Regions from separate parts of the Homo sapiens genome. Here region 2 is linked to region 1. Evidence: fine-mapped expression QTL. Tissue or cell type: whole blood. Region 1 holds a variant in brackets; the other region holds the start of a gene. All regions are shown on one strand. Distances are between the middles of the regions.

What was found. PIP is the estimated chance that this variant, and not a neighbour inherited with it, causes the effect.
Region 2: it holds the start of MVP, and the variant in region 1 is fine-mapped to the expression of MVP in whole blood (TOPMed, PIP above 0.99). The same link has a PIP of 0.9 or more in tibial artery.

The regions. Positions count from the first base shown.
Region 1 is chr16:30,312,573-30,317,716 of GRCh38, forward strand. It overlaps the pseudogene SMG1P5. Among named protein-coding and RNA genes, the nearest start is that of CD2BP2, 40 kb to the right of the region's middle. The variant C/A (reference allele first, on the strand shown) is at 2,963.
Region 2 is chr16:29,817,644-29,822,787 of GRCh38, forward strand. MVP (major vault protein) reads left to right here and starts at 2,819. Exons shown (of 15, transcript NM_005115.5): 1 at 2,819-2,867. PAGR1 (PAXIP1 associated glutamate rich protein 1) reads left to right here. Exons shown (of 3, transcript NM_024516.4): 3 at 1,912-4,846. The coding sequence ends at 2,111. MVP-DT (MVP divergent transcript) reads right to left here and starts at 2,724. Exons shown (of 4, transcript NR_186424.1): 1 at 2,541-2,724; 2 at 1,897-1,958. RefSeq lists enhancers at 2,463-2,532, 3,224-3,790, 3,253-3,542.

The DNA of each region.
Region 1 (5,144 bases):
GAGCTAACATTTTAGCTCCTAACAAGAGCTAGTGGGCAACTGATCCAAGCAGTTTACATATGTTTATCATGTCATTTCGTGTTCAACACAATCCTATTAGTTATAACTTGATAACTAAGGTTTCATAACTGGCCTAAGGTTGCACAGCTTGTAAAAGGCAGAGTCAGAACTCAGACCCAGTACTGTCTAATGTTTGAGCTCTTCAACACTCCAACGCTGCCTGTCATCTTCCTTCTAATATATCCACAAATTCACCTGCATCTGCACATACAGCTTTTCTTCCCATCATCTTCGCATAATGGAACAAATAAACCTCCTATCCATAGAAATCATCTGGATCTGTCTATTCCCCCCATTTTCCAAGGTATGTCTTGTCTTTTTTTTTTGAGATGTAGTCTCGCTCTGTCGACCAGGCTGAAGTGCAGTGGCGTGATCTCGACTCACCGCCTCCCAGATTCACGCCATTCTCCTGCCTCAGCCTCCCGAGTAGCTGGGACTACAGGCGCCCACCACCATGCCCGGCTAATTTTTTGTATTTTTAGTAGAGACGGGGTTTCACCATGTTAGCCAGGATGGTCTCGATCTCCTGACCTCGTGATCCGCCCACCTTGGCCTCCCCAAAGTGCTGGGATTACAGGCTTGAGCCACTGCACCCGGCCTGTTTCTTTTGTATGTTGCAAAATCTCCCATTTTACTACTGCTTATCACATCGTCAACATATGAGCACTCTCAAAAGTCTTACTTTAAAAAAAACAAAAACAAAAACAAAAAATGGCCGGGCACGGTGGCTCACGCCTGTAATCCCAGCACTTTGGGAGGCGAAGACAGGCAGATCATAAGGTCAGGAGATTGAGACCACCCTGGCCAACATGGTGAAACCCCGTCTCTACTAAAATAGAAAAAATAAAACTACCTGCGCGTGGTGGCACGCACCTGTAGTCCCACCTACTTGGGAGGCTGAGGCAGGGGAATCGTTTGAACCCGGGAGGCAGAGCTTGCAGTGAGCCGAGATCGTGCCACTACACTCCAGCCTGGCGACAGAGCAAGACTCTGTCTCAAAAAAAAACTAAAGGCCGGGTGCAGTGGCTCACGCTGGTAATCCCAGCACTTTGGGAGGCCAAGGTGGGTGGATCATGAGGTCAGGAGTTCAAGACCAGCCTGGCCAATGTAGTGAAACCCCGTCTCTACTAAAAATACCAATATCAGCCAGGCGTGGTGGCGGGCGCCTGCAATCCCAGCTACTCAGGAGGCTGAGGCAGGAGAATCGCTCGAATCCGGGAGGCAGAGGTTGCAGTGAGCCGAGACTGCACCATTGCACTCCAGCCTGGGCGGCAGAGAGACTCCATCTCAAAAATAATAATAATAATAAAATAAATTTAAAAATTAAGAAAATAAGGCCGGGCACGGTGGCTCACGCCTGTAATCCCAGCACTTTGGGAGGGTGAGGCAGGCAGATCATGAGGTCAGGAGTTTGAGACCAGCCTGGGCAACATAGTGAAACCCCATCTCTACTAAAAATACAAAAAATTAGCCAGGTGTGGTGGTGGGCGCCTGTAATCCCAGCTAGTTGGGAGGCTGAGGCAGGAGAACTACTTGAACCCCGGAGGCGGAGGTTGCAGTGAGCCGAGGTCGCGCCATTGCACTCCAGACCAGGCAACAGTGTGAGACTCTGACTCAAAAAAAAAAACAAAAAACAAAAAAACCCTTTAACTGCCTTTCTCCCTCTATCAATCTAATAGCCTGGACTCTTCACAGACAAACCTGTTGAAAAATGTATCTTCCTTGCCTTCATTTACTTTTTAACGCACTTTAATCTGGGTTCCACCTGCAACACACCACTGAAGCTATTCCTACTAAGGTAGGAACTGCCACTCAAGGACTTCTTGGCTCTAAAATCCCATGAGCCTTTTTCAGTTCACCTTACAATTTCTCAGTACCATTCTAAAGTTTATGAGTTTTTTAGTTAACTTTAATTCCAGTGACTCTTTCTACTTTATCCCAATCCAAGTATTCTCCTCCTTCTTCACTTTTTTTTTTTTTTTTTTTTTTTTTTGAGACAGACTCTGACTTTGTTGCCCAGGCTGGAGTATAGTGGTGCAATACTGGCTCACTGCAACCTCCACCTCCAGGTTCAAGCGATTCTCCTGCCTCAGCCTCCCAAGTAGCTGAGATTACAGGCCCCTGCTACCACACCCGGCTAATTTTTGTATTTTTAGTAGAGACGGGGTTTCACCATGTTGGCCAGGCTGGTCTCGAACTCCTGACCTCAAGGGATCCCACCCGCCTCGGCCTCCCAAAGTGCTGGAATTACAGGCGTGAGCCAACGTGCCCGGCCCCTTCTTCACTTCTTTAACCAGCTTAGATTTCATTGTGTGTCATTTCAACAACACTCTTGCCTATACCCTTAACTCTTAAGATTTTCATCACAGCCATCTGGCAAAACCCCAATCCTGGATAAACCCAACGATCCATCAATAAGCACCACACTCCCAGGTCCTCCAGTGTTTACTTCCCATTCTATACATGCACTATCCAGACATTCCCATTATCTTCAAATTCCAAAATATCCTATCCACCTCCCCTCCCCATACACACATTCTACTTCACCAACAAAAAAAAAGGTACCAGCTGGGCACGGTGGCTCACGCCTGTAATCCCTGCACTTTGGGAGGCCAAGGCGGGTGGATCACTTGATGTCAGGAGTTGGACACCAGCCTGGCCAAAATGGTGAAACCTCATCTCTACTAAAAATACAAAAATTAGCTGGGTGTGGTGGTGCGCACCTGTAATCTCAGCTCCACGGGAGACTGAGGCAGGAGAATCGCTTGAACCCAGGAGGTGGAGGTTGCAGCGAGCCAAGACTGCACCACTGCACTCCAGAGCCTGGGCAATAATAAGAGCGAAACTCCATCTCGGGGAGGGGTGGGGAAGATACCATAAAATACCTGCACCCGATTCTAGA[C/A]CTTACTGAGGATTCCATCTACTTCTACCTTACTGTAACTTTTCAAATACTTTTCCCACTGAACTAAATCCCCCCCATAAACATGCAACACTTTCTAATGTATCCCATTGAAAAATGCAAAAACATATAAAAAGGAAAAACTCCATCAATCCCACATGTCCCTCCATCGAACAATCTGCCTTTACTTGCTGCAGCCAAACTAAAGTTGTCTAGACTCCCCTCTCCCATTTCTTCACTTCTTCTAGCTCCTTAACACACACTGGTCCAAATTCTGCCCCATCACTCTTGGCAAAATCCATTATGACCTCCAGGCTGCTAAATCCAAGATACAGTTCAGGCCTCAATCTGCTCATCCTTTCAGCAGCTTTCACAGGGCTGCTGAGTAGGGTTGAGCAGTTTTGCCCTGCACACAGGTGCCCTGCAGAGGAATGAGGTGGGCTGAATGAAACTCCTTTTTTAAAAATTCTTGGCTGGCATAGTGGCTCACGCCTGTAATCCCAGCACTTTGGGAGGCTGAGGCGGACGGATCACTTGAGGTCAGGAGTTCAAGATCAGCCTGGCCAATATGGCGAAACCCCATCTATTAAAAATACAAAAATTAGCTGGGCGTGGTGGCGGGCACCTGTAATCCCAGCTACTCCGGAGGCTGAGGCAAGAGAATCACTTGAACCCAGGAGGCGGAGGTTGCAGTGAGCCGAGACTGTGCCACTGCACTCCAGCCTGGGCAACAAGAGAGAAACTCCATCTCAAAAAAAAAAAATTGTTTATGCCAACTAATTGTACACCTAAATGCACCAAGTTCATGACTTTCTCCTTGCATTTATTTATTTATTTATTTATTTATTTTTTAATTAGGTCTCACTCTATGTTGCCCACGTTGTAGTGCAGTGTGTGATTACAGCTCACTGCAGCCTTGAACTCCTGGGCTCAAGAGATCCTCTGGTCTTAGCCTCCCCAGTAGCTAGAACTACAGGTATGGAGTGGCTCTCTGCCTTTATTTCTAACCCAAGCTACCTTACAACCTTAAAAAGAGATGCTGCTTCGCCGGGCACAGTTGCTCTCGCCTATACTCCCAGCACTTTGGGAGGCCAAGGCGGGCGGATCATGAGGTCAGGAGTTCGAGACCAGCCTGACCAACATGGTGAAACCCTGCCTCTACTAAAAATACACAAAAACTTAGCCAGGCCTGGTGGTGTGGTGCCTGTAGTCCCAGCTACTCAGGAGGCTGAGGCAGGAGAATCATTTGAACCCGGGAGACAGAGGTTGTAGTGAGCCGGAGGTTGTAGTGAAGCCGGAGGTTGTAGTGAGCCGAGATCACGCCGCTGCATTCCCACCTGGGCGACAGAACAAGACTCCAAAAAAAAAAAAAAAAAAAGAGAGACCCTACTTCAGCTCTCAATTGCATCGCTTATCTTCCCCTTTTGTCAGTTAAGTCCTGGAAGTACCCTAGAAACCTATCATTTGGCCTGGGAAATTGCCAAGATTAAAAGGAAATGTCTTACTCTATGACCTCTTTAACAGATGAAGGACAAAAAAGGCTGAAAATGTACAAAGATATGCATCCCTCCCCCACCAGTTAAATGCCAAACATAGGCCAGGCACAGTTGATCACACCTGTACTCCCAGCTGTTTGGGAGTCCGAGGTAAGCAGATTACCTGAGTTCAGGAGTTCGAGATCAGCCTGGCCAACATGGTGAAACCCAGTCTCTACTAAAAATACAAAAAAATTAGGCAGGCGTGGTGGTGCACATCTGTAATCCCAGCTACTCAGGAGGCTGAGGCAGGAGAATCGCTTACCCAGAGGCGGAGGTTGCAGTGAGCTGAGAGCTCGCCACTGCACTCCGGCCTGGAGAACAGAGTGAGACTCGGTCTCCAAAAAAAAAAAAAAAAAGGCCAAACATAGCACATTCCAACCAAGATTAAGAATCACTAAGAGTTACATTGCACCACTGCACACCAGCCTAGGTGACAGAGCGAGACTCCGTTTAAAAAAAAAAAAAAAAGAGTTACACACTGCAGAAATCTAAAGAATCTCAAAAGTAGACTGGGACTTTATAATCAAGGTAAAGGTGAAGTCATGTTTACCAATATAAGAAATGAATGGGCCAGGCGCAGTGGCTCACACCCGTAATCCCAGCACTTTGGGAGGCCGAGGCGGGAGGATCACAAGGTCAGGAGATCG
Region 2 (5,144 bases), 490 kb before region 1:
TTGTATTTTTAGTAGAGACAGGCTTTCACCATGTTGGCCAGGCTGGTCTTGAATTCCTGACCTTGTGATCCGCCCACCTCAGCCTCCCAAAGTGCTAGGATTGCAGGCATGAGCCAATGCGCCTGGCCCCTTGTCTTCCTTTAAGAGACAATTATAATACAAAAAATTAGCCGGGCATAGTGGCGGGCACCTGTAGTCCCAGCTACTCAGGAGGCTGAGGCAGGAGAATCGCTTGAGCCTGGGAGGTGGAGGTTGCAGTGACCTGAGATCACACCACTGCACTCCAGCCTGGGCGAGAGAGTGAGACTCCGTCTCAAAAAACACAATTACAGATAATTCTTTTTTTAAAAAAACAACTAGTCATTGATTCTGGAAAATTACAGATAATTCTATCATGTTTCCCATTCCCAGAAGTCCAAGTCCTGGCCTTTCAATATTATCTAGATCTGCATCCCTCTACTACCATGTACATTCTTTAATCACACCGCTGGCCCCATTTCCCACCCCACATGCCTTCCTAGAATTTACCCTCAGAGTCATGCCTTTCCTTTTTTCTTTTTTTTGAGGGGTGGAGAGACAGAGTCTTGCTGTGTTGCCCAGACTGGTTGGTCTCGAACTCTTGAGCTCAAGTGATCCATCCGCCTCGGTTCTCAAAGTGCTGAGATTACAGGCATGAGTCACTGCACCCAGCCTAGAGCCATTCTTGATTTCTCTCTCTTTTACCTGAACATTCACACCAGCAGCAAGTCTTGGTAGCTATAAGATGTACATTTCCAAGTACCTCTGCTAGTCTCCACTTTCAATACCACATCCCCATCCAAGCCACTGTCTTTCTTGCCTGGATAGTTGTAGTAGCTCCTAACTGGGCTCTCTGCTTCCAGCTTCTGCAATTCAGATGAACCTTTTAAAACATAAATCATATCACTTTTTTTTTCTTTGAGACGAAGTCTTTCTCTTGCTCAGGCTGGAGTGCAGTGGCATGATCTTGGCTCACTGCAATCTCCACCTCCTGGGTTGAAGCGATTCTCCTACCTCAGTCTCCTGAGTAGCTGGGATTACAAGGACACGTCACCACGCCTAGCTAATTTTTGTATTTTCTAGTAGAGAGGGGGTTTCGCCATGTTGGCGAGGCTGGTCTTGAACTCCTGACCTAAAGCTTCCCAAAGTGCCTGCCTCAGCTTCCCAAAGTGCTGGAATTACAGGCGTGAGCTGCTGCACTCAGCCATAAATCGTGTCACTTTTCCACTTAAAATTTTCCAAGGGATTCCATCTTGCCAGGGAAGAGCATGTCAAAGGAGAATCCAAGCGCTTTTCCCGCCACCTCCAGTTCTCTGCACTCTTTTTTTTGTTTTTGTTTTTGGCGAGTAGGGGAGACGGAGTGTAGCTGTGTCACCGAGGCTGGAGTGCAGTAGTGCGATCTTGGCTCATTGCAACCTCCACCTCCCGGGTTCAAGCGATTCTTCTGCCTCAGCCTCCCAAGTAGCTGGGATTACAGGCGCCCACCACCACGCCCAGCTAATTTTTTGTGTTGGCCAGGCTGGTCTCAAACTCCTGACCTCGTGAGTTGCCCACCTCAGCCTCCCAAAGTGCTGGCATTACAAGCGTGAACCACCATGCCCGGCCTGCACTCTTCTTTGAACAGAACTCTGTTCTTGTCCTGGGGCCTCTACCCTTGCCATTCCCCTGCCCAGTATGTTCCTCCCTGTTCTTCACATTACCTGTGCCTTCCTGTCAATCAAGATCTTTGCTTCTCACCCTCTCTGAGGTCCAACCCTGAACCTCAGGTCCTCCAAGACAGAGGCCTGGGGACCTGCATGTTTAACCAGCTCCCCAAGTGATGAGTGAGGTCCAGGCAGGTATGGTGTACACCACCTCCATCCCTTCCATGTATCTTACCTTCCTCTTCTCCAGGAAGCTCAGCCCGGAGCCAGAAACGGGAGGCCCGCCTGGACAAGGTGCTGTCGGACATGAAGAGACACAAGAAGCTGGAGGAGCAGATCCTTCGTACCGGGAGGGACCTCTTCAGCCTGGACTCGGAGGACCCCAGCCCCGCCAGCCCCCCACTCCGATCCTCCGGGAGTAGTCTCTTCCCTCGGCAGCGGAAATACTGATTCCCACTGCTCCTGCCTCTAGGGTGCAGTGTCCGTACCTGCTGGAGCCTGGGCCCTCCTTCCCCAGCCCAGACATTGAGAAACTTGGGAAGAAGAGAGAAACCTCAAGCTCCCAAACAGCACGTTGCGGGAAAGAGGAAGAGAGAGTGTGAGTGTGTGTGTGTGTTTTTTCTATTGAACACCTGTAGAGTGTGTGTGTGTGTTTTCTATTGAACACCTATAGAGAGAGTGTGTGTGTTTTCTATTGAACATCTATATAGAGAGAGTGTGTGAGTGTGTGTTTTCTATTGAACACCTATTCAGAGACCTGGACTGAATTTTCTGAGTCTGAAATAAAAGATGCAGAGCTATCATCTCTTAAAAGGAGGGGCTGTAGCTGTAGCTCAACAGTTAGGCCCCACTTGAAGGGAGAGGCAGAATTGTACTCACCCAGATTGGAAAATGAAAGCCAGATGGGTAGAGGTGCCCTCAGTTAGCACCTGTCCCATCTCGGGCCCTCCAACTCCTCCCAGTCCCACTCCAGTGCAGCCAGCTGGCTCCAAGGTAGAAACCCATGAGCACTCAGGGAGCAGTGTGCCTTCAGCTGCAGCAGAAGCAGCCCGGAGGATAAAATGAGAACCAGCTGCACACGGGCCCTTTAACTCCCAAGCCCCACCCCTGGGCTTGGCCTGCCTTGCCCTGCCGGGAAGTGATCCCCAAGGCAGGGTGAGAGTTCCCCATCTGAGGCGTTTGTTGCAGCTACCTGCACTTCTAGATGTGAGTACATTGTACTAGCCCCCCAAACCCCAAATCAGGGGCAGATCTTTGTATCCCTTGAGGCTCTCTTTAGTCCTGTCTTGCTTTGAAGGGCCTTGCTTCTGCTGGGGCAGGGAAAACATGTCTGAATCAGAGTGGGGAAGGAGGATGGGTGGTGGCTTTGCTTTTGGAGGTTTCACTTTCCAATAGTTGGGAGTCTTCTGGGTTTTGAAGTAAAGGCAGATTAACACCAACACCGGTCCCCCACCCCCCTGCAACTCTCAGGCCTCTCTCTGACTTCAGGGTCCCACCTGGGAAATCAGGTGGGGAACCTTACAGGGTCATTCAGACCCCATCTTAGCCCTAGATCGGTGCTTGCTCTACTCACCTGCACTGTCCTGGGGACCTGGGCTCTGGCCTGTCACCTTGAGCTCCAAGAATGTGACCTGTACCCATTCAGGCCCCTTAACTCTGACAGATGAGGGTTTCTTACTCCTCCATGCAGGGCTGGGCCAGCTGTTGGTCTCAGTCGATCATTCAGGAAGTCATTAGCAGAGTGATTTCCAGAAGGCGTAGAATTTAGTGACCAAGGTTCTTTCCTTTTTGGGAGGAGAAAGTGAAAACTAGGATGCTCAGCTGGACCCACCAGCCTGAGATTCTGGGGATTTTAGAGCTGTCCCTTGGGGAGCCAAGCACTTGGGGGTGGAGGTGATAGCGAGGCTGATGGCCCCTGTGTTCTCAGCTCTCTGCCTGGGTAGCCCCTGGGTGATGGGGGAGAGGCCAGCTGTCACGTGGGGTATCAGGTGGCTCTGCCAGAAACTCCCTTGGCACACAGAGCACTGGGTCGGCCCTCGGGTGTGGCTGTTTGGGCAGGACAGCCCTCTGTATGTAGCCTTGAGCAGGTAGGGGGGCCACCTTGAGTGGGTGGCCCAGAGACAGCCTCAGGGCTCCAAGGTAACGGGGTGCTCAGGTTATCTTGGGTGCTGCCCTCCCAGGTTCTGGGGGAGCAGAGGCTGGGCGCTGGCCCAACTTACAGGAAACACTCACCTTTGAACTGCCATTAGCACCATCTGGGCAGTACACAGCCCCACCCAGGTCCTCTAGTTCTTGTTCTCGGCTTAGAATCTTTGTGTTTCTGCCTGAGAAGCCACTGCCTCCTAGTTTGTGGTCTCTACAGTTATAGCCAGGTTGGACTTCCGGCTCCGTCCTTTGATAACTGTGTGCTCTTGGGCAAATTTCTTAACTTGCAGGTTCTTGTGAGGATAACATGAGTTAATTGAGGGCACTTAACACTACCTGGCACAGATTAAGCTCATCTGAAGTGGGAGCTGTTACTTAGGGGCGTTTGCCTAGAACACAGGGTCCAGAGGCTCTCTCCCGGAAACTTAGACCCAGTGAGTCAGAAGTGAGGCCTGCAAAAAGCAGCAGGAGTGGGGTTAAGAATTCCAGCCTAGGGCTGGATGCGGTGGCTCAGGCCTGTAATCCCAGTACTTTGGGAGGCCCGAATGGGAGGATGGCTTGAGGCCAGGAGTTCCAGACCAGCCTGAGCAACATAGCGAGACCCTGTCTCTGTTTGTGTGTGTGTGGTTGGGGTTTTGTTTTTTTTTTTTTTTTAAAGAATTATAGCTCAGTCCTATGATTAGGCAAGTTGAGAAAATATTGATGAAGATCAGGGGTGCTGAAGCCTGGTTCCTGGGGTCGCTTCTGATCTAGGCGGTTCTTGCCTCTGGTGACTGGTGTTAATTGGCAGGAGTGGGAGGAGGGAGGACAAGTGGAAGTCTAGGCTGGCTGAGCTGTTCTGTCTCGAAAAGTTCCTAAAACTGTGCTGCTTTAAAAAAAAAAAAAGTAATTTATGAGACACATTCTCAATTTCCATTAATCATCTCCTAAAGGGGGTAAACCAGGAAGCCGCTGGGTGAAAACAGGCTGTTGGCAATTCCTGAGTCATGTGACCCATTCTCTAAAGACTAGAATATTTAACTTAAATCAGTGAGAAACTCTGTGAAGTTGTGTCCTTGTTTATACCAAACTTCATGTGCCTTTTCCTGAACCTGAAGCTGTGGGAAGGTCTGGGGGCAGGGCCGCATCACCGACCTTACGTCCAACCTCAGGACTGCCTGGAGCAAGAGCCCTGGGGTTGGGGACAAAGGAGGCTGCCTGGACCTGGGTAAGGGAAGGGGCTGGAGGAGAATGAGTGCAATTCCCTGCCCTTCACAGCCTGCAATCGGAGCTGTGTTTTTGTTTTTGAGACAGAGTCTCGCTCTGTCCCCCAGGCCAGAGTACAATGGCGCAATCTCG